2 separate regions of the Homo sapiens genome follow, and region 1 is linked to region 2. The links come from fine-mapping of genetic effects on plasma protein levels. Region 2 holds a variant in brackets. A gene starts in the other region. All regions are shown on their forward strands.

Region 1 (5,377 bases), not on the chromosome of region 2:
AAAAATAAATATTCACAAAGTTACTCTTTAGAGCATTAAAAACAACCAAACTGTCCATACATAGGGAGATGGTTGAATAAACTATGGCATATCCACACAGTGAAGTATTGCATGCAACTGTAAAAATGAATGAGGAATATTTGAATTTGTAGGAAATAGTGGATTCCAGCATATTTGTTAAGTTAAAAAAGAAATGTGCAAAAGAATACCTATAGCATGCTTTTAAAATGTAATAAAAAAGGAGAACTAAGAAGACAAATGTGTAGCAGCTCATTTGAGCAAAACTAAGGACAAACCAGAAACTACTGAAATTGAGTACCTATGGTGGAGAGGATAGAGGTGATGGAGAGAAGTGACATTTCCCTTTTATTGTGTCTTTTTATATCAATCTGACATTTGGGACTACGTTAATGTTTTATTTAAGCAAAAAAAAATCAAAAAGATTGAGGGGAAACTAAAATAGAATACAAAGAGAAACAAATTAACAGTATTTTGAATGAATAACAATCACACTGAAGAGGGGGAATAATCTGAGTAACTTTGGAACACAACAATGCTGTTTTTATATTTTCGGGCTATAAACAAAATAAAACTTTAAAAACGAGTAGATTTGATTTCCATCATAGTATAGAAATAGCAATTTTAAACTTCTTTCTGTGTATTCTAGGATTAAGCAAATAAGTAAATATATTGTGGATCTAGGTGTCTCACTGTTGAAGAAGGGAGTTACACATGCAGAAAGAGGGAAGGACAGAATGAACTCTATGCTAACGGACTGAAATTGGAAGAATCACTGTGAATTCATGACATATATAAATATAGATATGGGAATGGATATACATATATATATATAATACATATCCTTGCTCTGTCTGCTGAGAGGGTGCGGAAACAATGATACTCCAATAAAAATGAACACACTTAGCATCCAATTCTGGCATCTAAATGCCATTCTCTGCCAGAAAGAACCAGCATTCCTTGGAGAAACAGCAAATTCCAGTGTCAGGTCTAGAGGTGAGTCTGGAGCATTTTTTTTTGTGTGTGTGCCAGAAAGTAAGGAAGTGCTCAAAGAACAATAAGAACAAGTCAAAATGACATAGGAACTATTTTGAGGGCTCCCACTGGCCCGATCAGGGAGAATTTAAGCATCAAAATAAATAATGGTAGCCATGAATTATGACCCATTGAGTAAATAAATAAAATTCATATTGATATAGTTTATGCTGATATAGATAAATGAATAAATAAATAGAGAAGGGAAAACTTTTATTTACAGTAAAATGCCAACAGATGAATATAGAAGTAATTATTAAATTAGGAAAAAACACCCTTTGACAACCATCATAGTAAAAATTGATTCAAGAAAGGATCATCAATAGACGCTAAAATTTGTGGGTAAAAATTTGATGAAAAAATGAGGAATTTACATAGTTTTAAAGTATCTCCCTATAAAATACTTATTAATTACAAAGGGAAAAATACTGAGTCTACACTAAGAAACATGGCAGGCACCATCTTAACTAAGTGATCAAAGTTACCACCACCAGTAATAGGACAAATAGACAACATATGCCTCCCCGTAAGGATAAGACATCCTTTCTGGTATTCCTGTCAAATAATTAGATTCAATAACCTGAATCTATCATGAAGAAATGATAGACAAATCCAAATTGTGGGGTGTGATCCTGTCTCCTGACATTACCATCCACGTATACTGCCCTCCTACACTGAAAAGGGCTGATCTGTACAATCAATTGGATATTCTGGAGTTAACATATTGTGATTTCTGAGGACAGGTCACAAAGGACATTATGGCTTCTTCTTTCTTGTTCTCAGAGACGCTAGCTGGCATGTCACGAGGACACTCAACACACAAGCAGCGAGCCCTATGGCAAAATCCACGTGGTGAAGAATGAAGCTTCCAGCCAAAGGCTGGTAAGTGAGCCATCTTAGATGTGGATTCGCCTATCCCAGTTAACCCTTCAGATGACTGCACCTCCAGCTGGTGTCTTAACTGCAATCTCCTGAGCGATCCCAAGCCAGAACCACCTGACCGACCCACAGAAACTGTGAGATCATAAATGTTTATTCTTGCTTTACACCACTACCTTCAGGGTAATTTGTTATTATAATAGATAACGGACTTAAAAGTCATTCTCCAAAAATAATTGTGGTGTATTCGTCAAAAATGTAAAGGTCATGCAATACCAAAAATGCTGAGGACATTTTTCCAGAATAAAGAACTGGGGGTGGGGGGAAGGCATAATGATCAAACACAATACATGATCCTGAAATGATTCTGGACCAGGAAAAACAAAGGTTGGTTTCTATTGTTGTTATTGTTTTTACCATAACACAGGTTATTGAGATGATTGTCAAAATTTAAATACAGATGGTAGCTTATAGTCTTGTGTCAATGTTAAGTTCTTATTTTTGATCATTGCACTCTAGTTATGGAACAGAAAGTCCTTAGTGAACCATTTAGAATAGGAATAAATGCTAGATGGTTCCAAAGTAATAATTATATAATTATAATTATATAATCACATATATGTACATATATGTCTATAGAGAAAGAATAGAGAATGGTAAAGAAAATACAGCAAAATGTTAACATGCAGAGAATCTGGGTGACAAGTATATGGGAATTCTCTGCAGTACTCTTGAAACTTTTCTGTAGAGATTACTTCAAAATAAAGAACAGAGCAGAAGTGGCTGCTGTTCCTAAATTCCCTAAGTAAACTTACACTGCTTTTTCAAACTGGGAGATGAATCCACTAATAGGTTTTGAAATGAGTTTGGTGGATTTCTAATAAGAATAGGATAGCCTAGCCTAGTCTAGCATAACACAGCATGGCACAGAGGACGAACATTGTAGATTACTAAGGGTGAGTACTAACTTGTGAAAGTTTTGTTTAAGTTCTAGTAAGAGAAACAAGTGAGTGTAGTGGGTTGCGTGGTCAAAAAAGTGGGGAAGCCACCGCAACGAGGGGTGAGTCTGAGCCAAAGAGTGGCTCAGAGCTCCCCGCCCACCTCGTGCCGGGCCGTCCCTCCCGCTTGTCCCACCCTCACCGGCGCCGCGTCAGCCCCCAGGCCGCCTGCAGGTGTGCGCTCAGAACTAGCACGTGTGCCGGACACTATTTAAGGGCCCGCCTCTCCTGGCTCACAGCTGCTTGCTGCTCCAGCCTTGCCCTCCCAGAGCTGCCGGACGCTCGCGGGTCTCGGAACGCATCCCGCCGCGGGGGCTTCGGCCGTGGCATGGGCGCCGCGGGCCTGCTCGGGGTTTTCTTGGCTCTCGTCGCACCGGGGGTCCTCGGTGAGCTGGGAGGGGGAGCACGGAGGTGGGGACGCGTCCCGGGCAGGGAAAGTTTCTGTGCCGCGATGCAAAGCAGGGGGCCAAAAGCGAGACGGTGGGGGCAGTGCTCGACGCGTGTCCGCCTCCCGCTAGCTTTGAGGGACCACTGCAATAAACCGCCTGGTCCTGATTGTCCCCACTGGCCCCTCCGGGAGCTGGGACCTCCAGAATTGGAGGCTGCGCCACAGAGGGGCGCTGTCTGGTCGGCCCGGTGTGGCTGGCGGCGTGCGGGTGCTCGCGGTCTCCTGCCGGGCTCCCCGCCCCCAGGATTCTGCAGGTGCTCATCGCTCTCTGGCCGGCGGTCAGCGCTACCGCTCGCCACGGGAAACCTACCCACTGCATGAGGCACCAGCTAGCCACGTGAGGCTGTTTCTGTACACCCGAACCGCGCTCTTGCCCAGCAAAAGCGGCAGAACCTCGGCTCCCTTCCCTAAATAAGAGTAAGACCTGGTTCCCAAGCATGGGTCTCAGATTTTCTGAACTCTAATGTGATATTGGTAGAGATCCTAAACATTAACCATCCGTAGTTATTTTTGAGACATGGATTAAAACTATTGTTTTCTTCTTGTTATTAACCTACTGTAATGGTGTGGACGTCCGCAAAGGTCTCATTCACCGTTTATTATATCTTTTTTTCCTCCAGATTGGCTTGATTTTAAAGAAAGATTATAATTAAGATTAGCGTCTCTTGGCTACAGGATGGGTCTAAGTTTCTAATTATCTCCACGGTACCGTGCATTCCTAGTTTATAAGACGTTTACTGTGTGCAGACCTCAATAACTGGGTGACTTTTGGCAAGTCATTTAGCTCCCTGATCTTCAGTTTCTTCATCTGTAAAATGAAACTAGTGATTAACTGGCCTTCCACCTCACTGAGCTGCCCTGAGCACAGATGAAACTAAGCAAAGAAAGTTGGATGTTAGTCGTTACTACTAAATATCAGTAATAAGCCTCCTGTACAGACTTGATTTTATGGAGCCAGCATTTAAGCTAACAAGCTGGGTGTCCAATTGTTTCTATGGACATCCAGCTTATTGAGGTGTCTGGAATACAGCACATATTAGTTTATTACAACTTTTTGCTTTCCTGACATTTTACTGTCTCCTGACCCTTAAACCTTTCTCCAGACCATTATCTTCATCTCTTTTCTTTTTCTGCATATTAACTCCCTTTGAACAAATGTATATTCACACTTTTTCTAAGAGCAGAGTACGTCCCTGACTTCTCACCTATTTCTAAATTTCAAAGAGGATATTATCAACTGAAAATCAAATTCTTCACCAGTCCTGCCAATTCAGGGCCACAGCAGCAGCATCATGTAGGTCACTTAACTGGAGCCCCATGAAATACCAGGTCTACCTATCAGCCATTCAAGCTACTGTGCTTCTGTTGTTTGTCCATTTCTCATTTTTGTACCAGTATTCCCATCCTAAGCATTATAATTACCTGTGTAACAACCTCATCTCTTTTAAGAGATTTTGGTTCTTATGATTGGAAAGGTTAAAGAGTGACCTATAGGTCACTTTCCAATTATGAAAACAAAAAATTAAGAAATATATATATTTTCATTATTTCACTCCATTGTTCAAAAATCTAAAAGGCCTCCAGTGGAAGAAAATCTGGTGTCTTCAGCCTTTCTAGCCCTTTGGAATGGGATCTCACCGAAGCTCACACCCCCTGATTTCTCCAGCTGCCTGTCTTGTATGCGCTGCTCATGGTCTTCCCCACCTGTCTCCCATGGCTCATGCTTTGCCCACTCTCCACTGCTAACTTTTACTGCTACTGCATGCTCTCCACACATCATCTCTTGGCCAGTTCCTGCACTTGAGTGTGCTTAATAAAATACTAAAGTACCTTTATAAAATGTAGGTTCCTGGTTCCACCTCCCCCTCCAGAGGTTCATAGGTTTGGAGTTAGCACAGGAAAGCTGAGGTTTAACAATCACTCTAGAAGATTCTGCAACAAGTATCTATAGGGCACACTGCTATAAGCAAAGTCAATGGAAGCAAATTTCCTTTTTAGT
Region 2 (5,357 bases):
GGGACGGGGGCAGGAAGCGCAGCCGGAGCTGCAGATCTCGGCCGCGCCCCGCGGGCTCCAATCCCGAGCGTCCCCCGCACGCGCAGCCGCGCTCGCCCGCGGGGCCTAAGGGCTGCTCAGGGCGGAGACCCCGTAGGTGAGCCCGAGAGGCGGTGCGGGGCTGCGAACCCCGGAGCGAGAGAGGACTGGAGGGCGGGGTGAGGGGACGCGAGGACCCAGCCTGCACGGCGGGGCACCCTCCCCGCTGGCACCTACCACGTGGGCCTGCATGGCCTGGCTCTCCTCGGACGCCCCGCCCACGCCGGCTCCGCTCATCCCGCCGCTTCGGCCTACGGCGCCTGCGCGGGCGGCACCAGGAGGCGGGTCTGAGGCCAGGCAATCTCCGATTGGTGCAGAGCGGCGTCCATAGGGGTGGGCCTCCCGGAGGGGCGTGGAAGGGGCGGGGCTGCTCGGCGCGGGGCGGGGCCGGGAGGTCGCCGCCTCAGTCTTCCGCCCTGGGCCACGCCCCGGTCCCGGGTCACCTCTCGGAGCCGCCTCCTTGGCCCGTGGAAGCCTCCTGCTCTCCCCTAGGGCGCGCGTCACAATCTCTGGTCCCCCGTAGACGCCGCCGCGGGGAAGGCGGGGCTGTGCGAGGGCGCCGCGCTGCAAACCCAAGCCAGGCGGCCTGGAGTTGCTGTAAAGCCTCAAGCAAGGCTGATATGTAAAAGGTCGTTGCATTTCACCCGGGCTGTGGGCTGTGCTACTTGACCGGGGAGGACGAGGGGACTGCAGGGCGTCCTTTCAGACAGACGCGGTAGGGAGAGCAGGGCGTGCAGGACACTTGACGGCCCCAGGAGAGGGGTGAGGCCCTGACCCCACCGGGGTGTCATCCAGGAGGAAGGGTGCCCGGGGCGAGGTCCCCCAGGAGAAGTGCCCAGGCCTGAGGCCTTGACCCCACTGAGATGTCCCCCCAGGAGGAGGGGTGCCCGGGGTTAGCTCCCCTAGGAGGAGGGGTACCCGGGAGTGAGGCCCTGACCCCACCGCGAGGTCCCCCAGGAGGAGGGGTGCCCAGGAGTGAGGCCCTGACCCCACCAGGAGGTCCTCCAGGAGGAGGGGTGCCCAGGAGTGAGGCCCTCACCCCACCGTGAGGTCCCCCAGAAGGAGGGGTGCCCAGGAGTGAGACCCTGACCCCACCAGGAGGTCCCCCAGGAGGAGGGGTGCCCGGGAGTGAGGCCCTGACCCCACCGCGAGGTCCCCCAGGAGGAGGGGTGCCCAGGAGTGAGGCCCTGACCCCACCAGGAGGTCCCCCAGGAGGAGGGGTGCCCGGGAGTGAGGCCCTGACCCCACCGCGAGGTCCCCCAGGAGGAGGGGTGCCCAGGAGTGAGACCCTGACCCCACCAGGAGGTCCCCCAGGAGGAGGGGTGCCCGGGAGTGAGGCCCTGACCCCACCGCGAGGTCCCCCAGGAGGAGGGGTGCCCGGGAGTGAGGCCCTGACCCCACCGTGAGGTCCTCCAGGAGGAGGGGTGCCCGGGAGTGAGGCCCTGACCCCACCGTGAGGTCCCCCAGGAGAAGGGGTGCCTGGGGAAAGACATGACCTCAGTAGCTCCGGGTACCCTCCACCTTTGCCCTCATTTCCGCCTCCGCATGCAGCCTTGGGAACTGCAGGGCTGGGAACCCGGAGAAGGCGGCCGGGCTCTGGGGGAGCTCAGAGGTGGCCTTCCCTGCCAGGAACACAGGCCAGGCCCCATCCCTATCTAACCTTATACTTGAGGAGCACAGAGCGGATATCTCCAGATTTGAGTCCTGAACGCGCGGCCGGGAACCCCAGCAGTTCTGAACTTGTCAAGGGAGCAGCCTGCCATGAGGGGTCTCCCAGGCGGCTGTGAGGCCTCTGGAAACTCCCTGCTTGGAGGAGGTTGACTGGGGACAGGGCCGTGGGGGTCAATAAAAAGGACTGCTGCCATTAGCCCTGGGCTGCCTGCACACAGAGATTAAGCCCGCTTGGGATTTGTTCCAGCTGATCTGAAGTAATGAGTAATTCACAATTAATGAGCATGGCTGTAAGCAGCCCTTCCTGGACAAATCCTTGGCTGTCCAAAACTAAGATTAAATGCAAATCATTCTGTCAATTAACCGTTACAACAAAGCCAAACTTCTGTTAAGCATCACTTCATAGATGGTTTTTTTTCCCTTAAATTGCCTCCTTGTTTGCAAAGCCTGTTTTACAAGTGGACTGCTTAAGTCACATGAGTGAAAATGCAGCCTTATTTACCGTTCAGCAAAAGCTATCTGAGAATTTGCTTCCAGGGACTTCA[T/C]GTTCTCCAGAGGTTGGGGTACTAGGAATCATTTCATTGTAAAGGACTCAGTAAAAAGTAGCCCTGTAGCTGCCAGAATGCGCCGTAGGCTCATGATAAGGTAGGTGGTAAGGGCCAGAGGTCAGGGGTCACAGATGGCTTCTGCCCCTCCACAGCACATGGTGTCCAGAACTGGGCTTGCCTCTCACCTTCCTTCCTGTACATTTCCTGGTGCCAGAAATTTGCTTTTCACTGACTTCCCCCTAATTCAAATTTGATTAGAATCTCCTTTTTGGGAACATTCAAAGTGCCAAGGTGCGTTTCAGAAATGCAGGGTTGCAGAGGTGGGGTCCTGAAATCCAAGGGTGGTGGGGCCTGAGATCACTGCCCTCGCAGTAGGAAGATCCTCGGGGAGAGGTCAGCAGAGGGCCCGGACAGAAGGCACTGACACTGTACCCTGGAGAGAGACAGGAAGGAGGACCTGGGGCCTCAGAGCTGGCCGGGTGGAGATCGTGTGGTCTTCGTTCAGAGGGAAGTGAGGTGCTGATGAAAGATGATTGACGTCACGTGGGCACCAGCAGAGGAAGTGACACAAAACGCCCCACAGCTTTGGGTTCACTGAGTGGGCAGTTGTATTTATTTATTTTATTTTATTTTTGTAGAGATGGGGTCTTGCTGTTGCCCAGACTGGTCTCGAGCTCTTGGCCTCCCAAACTGCTGGGATTACAAGTGAGAGCCATTGCAGATAGCCAGTTTTCTTTATTTTTAATTGTTGTTTGTGCAAAAGGTTTTGGCGAATACTGGCTATATTCAGAGGACTCAGTACCAGTTGCCAGGGGCCTGGAGTAGGTGCTGTGGTCTCAATGTGTGTGTCCCCCCAAACCATATGTTGACACCTAACCCCCAAGGCGATGTGGTTAGGAGATGGAGCTTTAAGGAGGTGACTGGGCCGTGAGGGCTGTCCTCTCATGACGGACGAGTGCCCTTCAACGAGACTTGAAGGAGCCCTTCTGTCCCTTCCTCCACGTGAGGACACATAGAAGGTACCATCTCTGGGGAACAGGCTGTCACCAAACACCAAGTCTGCTGGCGCCTGGATCCTGGACTTCTCAGCCTCTACAACTGTGTGCAATACATTTCTACTGTTTATCAATCACATGGTCAGAGGTATTTTGTTACAGCAGCACAAATGGACCAAGACATCAGGTCTCCAAATCGAAGAACTTCTCAGCAGCCTTCAGTGCTGGGTGGGGAGACAGAGGTTCCCTGCAGGTCCCCACAGACAGTGTTAGACTCAGTGCTGGGTGGGGAGACAGAGGTTCCCTGCAGGTCCGCACGGACGGTGTTAGACTCGGTGCTGGGTGGGGAGACAGAGGTTCCCTGCAGGTCCGCACGGACGGTGTTAGACTCGGTGCTGGGTGGGGAGACAGAGGTTCCCTGCAGGTCCGCACGGACGGTGTTAGACTCGGTGCTGGGTGGGGAGACAGAGGTTCCCTGCAGGTCCCCACGGACAGTGTTAGACTCGGTGCTGGGTGGGGAGGTTCCCAGCAGGTCCGCACGGACGGTGTTAGACTCGGTGCTGGGTGGGGAGGTTCCCTGCAGGTCCGCACGGACGGTGTTAGACTCGGTGCTGGGTGGGTTGACAGAGGTTCCCTGCAGGTCCGCACGGACGGTGTTAGACTGGGTGCTGGGTGGGGAGGTTCCCTGCAGGTCCGCACGGACGGTGTTAAACTCGGTGCTGGGTGGGGAGGTTCCCTGCAGGTCCGCACGGACGGTGTTAGACTCGGTGCTGGGTGGGGAGACAGGTTCCCTGCAGGTCCCCACAGACAGTGTTAGACTCGGTGCTGGGTGGGGAGGTTCCCTGCAGGTCCGCACGGACGGTGTTAGACTCGGTGCTGGGTGGGGAGACAGAGGTTCCCTGCAGGTCCCCACAGACAGTGTTAGACTCGGTGCTGGGTGGGGAGGTTCCCTGCAGGTCCGCACGGACGGTGTTAGACTCGGTGCTGGGTGGGGAGACAGAGGTTCCCTGCAGGTCCGCACGGACGGTGTTAGACTCAGTGCTGGGTGGGGAGACAGAGGTTCCCTGCAGGTCCGCACAGATGGTGTTAGACTCGGTGCTGGGTGGGGAGACAGAGGTTCCCTGCAGGTCCGCACGGACGGTGTTAGACTTGGGGGACACTGGGTCCCCAGTAAGAATGATTCTGATGTGAGTGCAGCTAGTGAGGGCTGAGTTCAAGCTTTAAAGACAAGAGCCCAACAGGTTCCTTCAACAGCCTGATCCCCTAGACCTTCGTGTGTCCAAGTCTCCAGAGGGGATGAACCTCAACAGACCTGGTTCGACCTCCCCTAGGCAGTGGGTGCTGCCTGGAGGGCAGGGTCGCTCGAGACTGTAGGAGACTCTGCACGTGGTGACCATAGCACCCCCATAATAAAGCAGCCCGTGAGGGCAGCCTGGCTGTTCGGCGATGTGTGCACTGAGGTCATCTCTCCTACTCTGTCTCAGCTATTTAAAGGCTGTGACTCACCATGTGGATTTAATGACTTATTAAGGAGTTGCAGCCCATGCTTTTTAAAAAAGTAATCTACAAAAAAATAAATGAAAAAGTCTTCAGGACAGTAGACTTAAGTGCGGATGTGGTCCCTCGAGTTCCATTTTTCAGCCGCCCACATTCCTGGGATTCAGACCTGTTGGGGATTGTAGGATTCTAGTTGCACAGGGAAACCCAGAGTCAATTCAGGAGGATAATTCTGAGCCAGGGGTGGGGGTACCGGCCTGGAGCTCCGGGGGGTACGGGCTGATCCTACGAAAGGAAAGTCAAGCCTGTGAATTGCAGAGCCTGGACAGAGAAGTTGAGGTGACGGCGTTCTGCAGATCCGTGAAATTCTATTACACGTCAGAGGGAAGGGACGGCCTCATGTGGCCCCTTGGAGGGACCAAGCCCTACCCAGCGCCTTGCCCAAGTCAGCACGCAGTCAGTGTTGGCTCCACCCACCTGCACCGTCAGGCCTTCTGGAAAGAGAAGGAGATCCGACTGACGGAGCGTCTCCAAACTTCCAAGCAAATATTACCTCGTTAAAGCCCAG

Direction of the effects. Positions count from the first base shown, and alleles are read on the strand shown. Strength reflects both the effect of a copy and how common the allele is.
As copies of T replace C in region 2, the plasma level of the protein whose gene starts at base 3,168 in region 1 goes up (moderate association).

What was found. PIP is the posterior inclusion probability: the model's chance that the variant is causal. The UK Biobank Pharma Proteomics Project read protein levels with antibody pairs (Olink). The fine-mapping took linkage between variants from a reference panel, not from the people measured, so its PIPs are less certain.
Region 1: it holds the start of CR2, and the variant in region 2 is fine-mapped to the plasma level of the CR2 protein (UK Biobank, PIP above 0.99).

What each region holds. Positions count from the first base shown.
Region 1 is chr1:207,451,161-207,456,537 of GRCh38, forward strand. It overlaps CR2 (complement C3d receptor 2), which reads left to right and starts at 3,168. Exons shown (of 20, transcript NM_001006658.3): 1 at 3,168-3,316. The coding sequence starts at 3,259. RefSeq lists silencers at 3,007-3,236, 3,617-3,726.
Region 2 is chr17:83,051,482-83,056,838 of GRCh38, forward strand. QTGAL (queuosine-tRNA galactosyltransferase) reads right to left here and starts at 289. Exons shown (of 13, transcript NM_001009905.3): 1 at 256-289. The coding sequence starts at 270. The region is part of intron 1 of LOC124904094; the gene reads left to right. The variant T/C (reference allele first, on the strand shown) is at 2,295.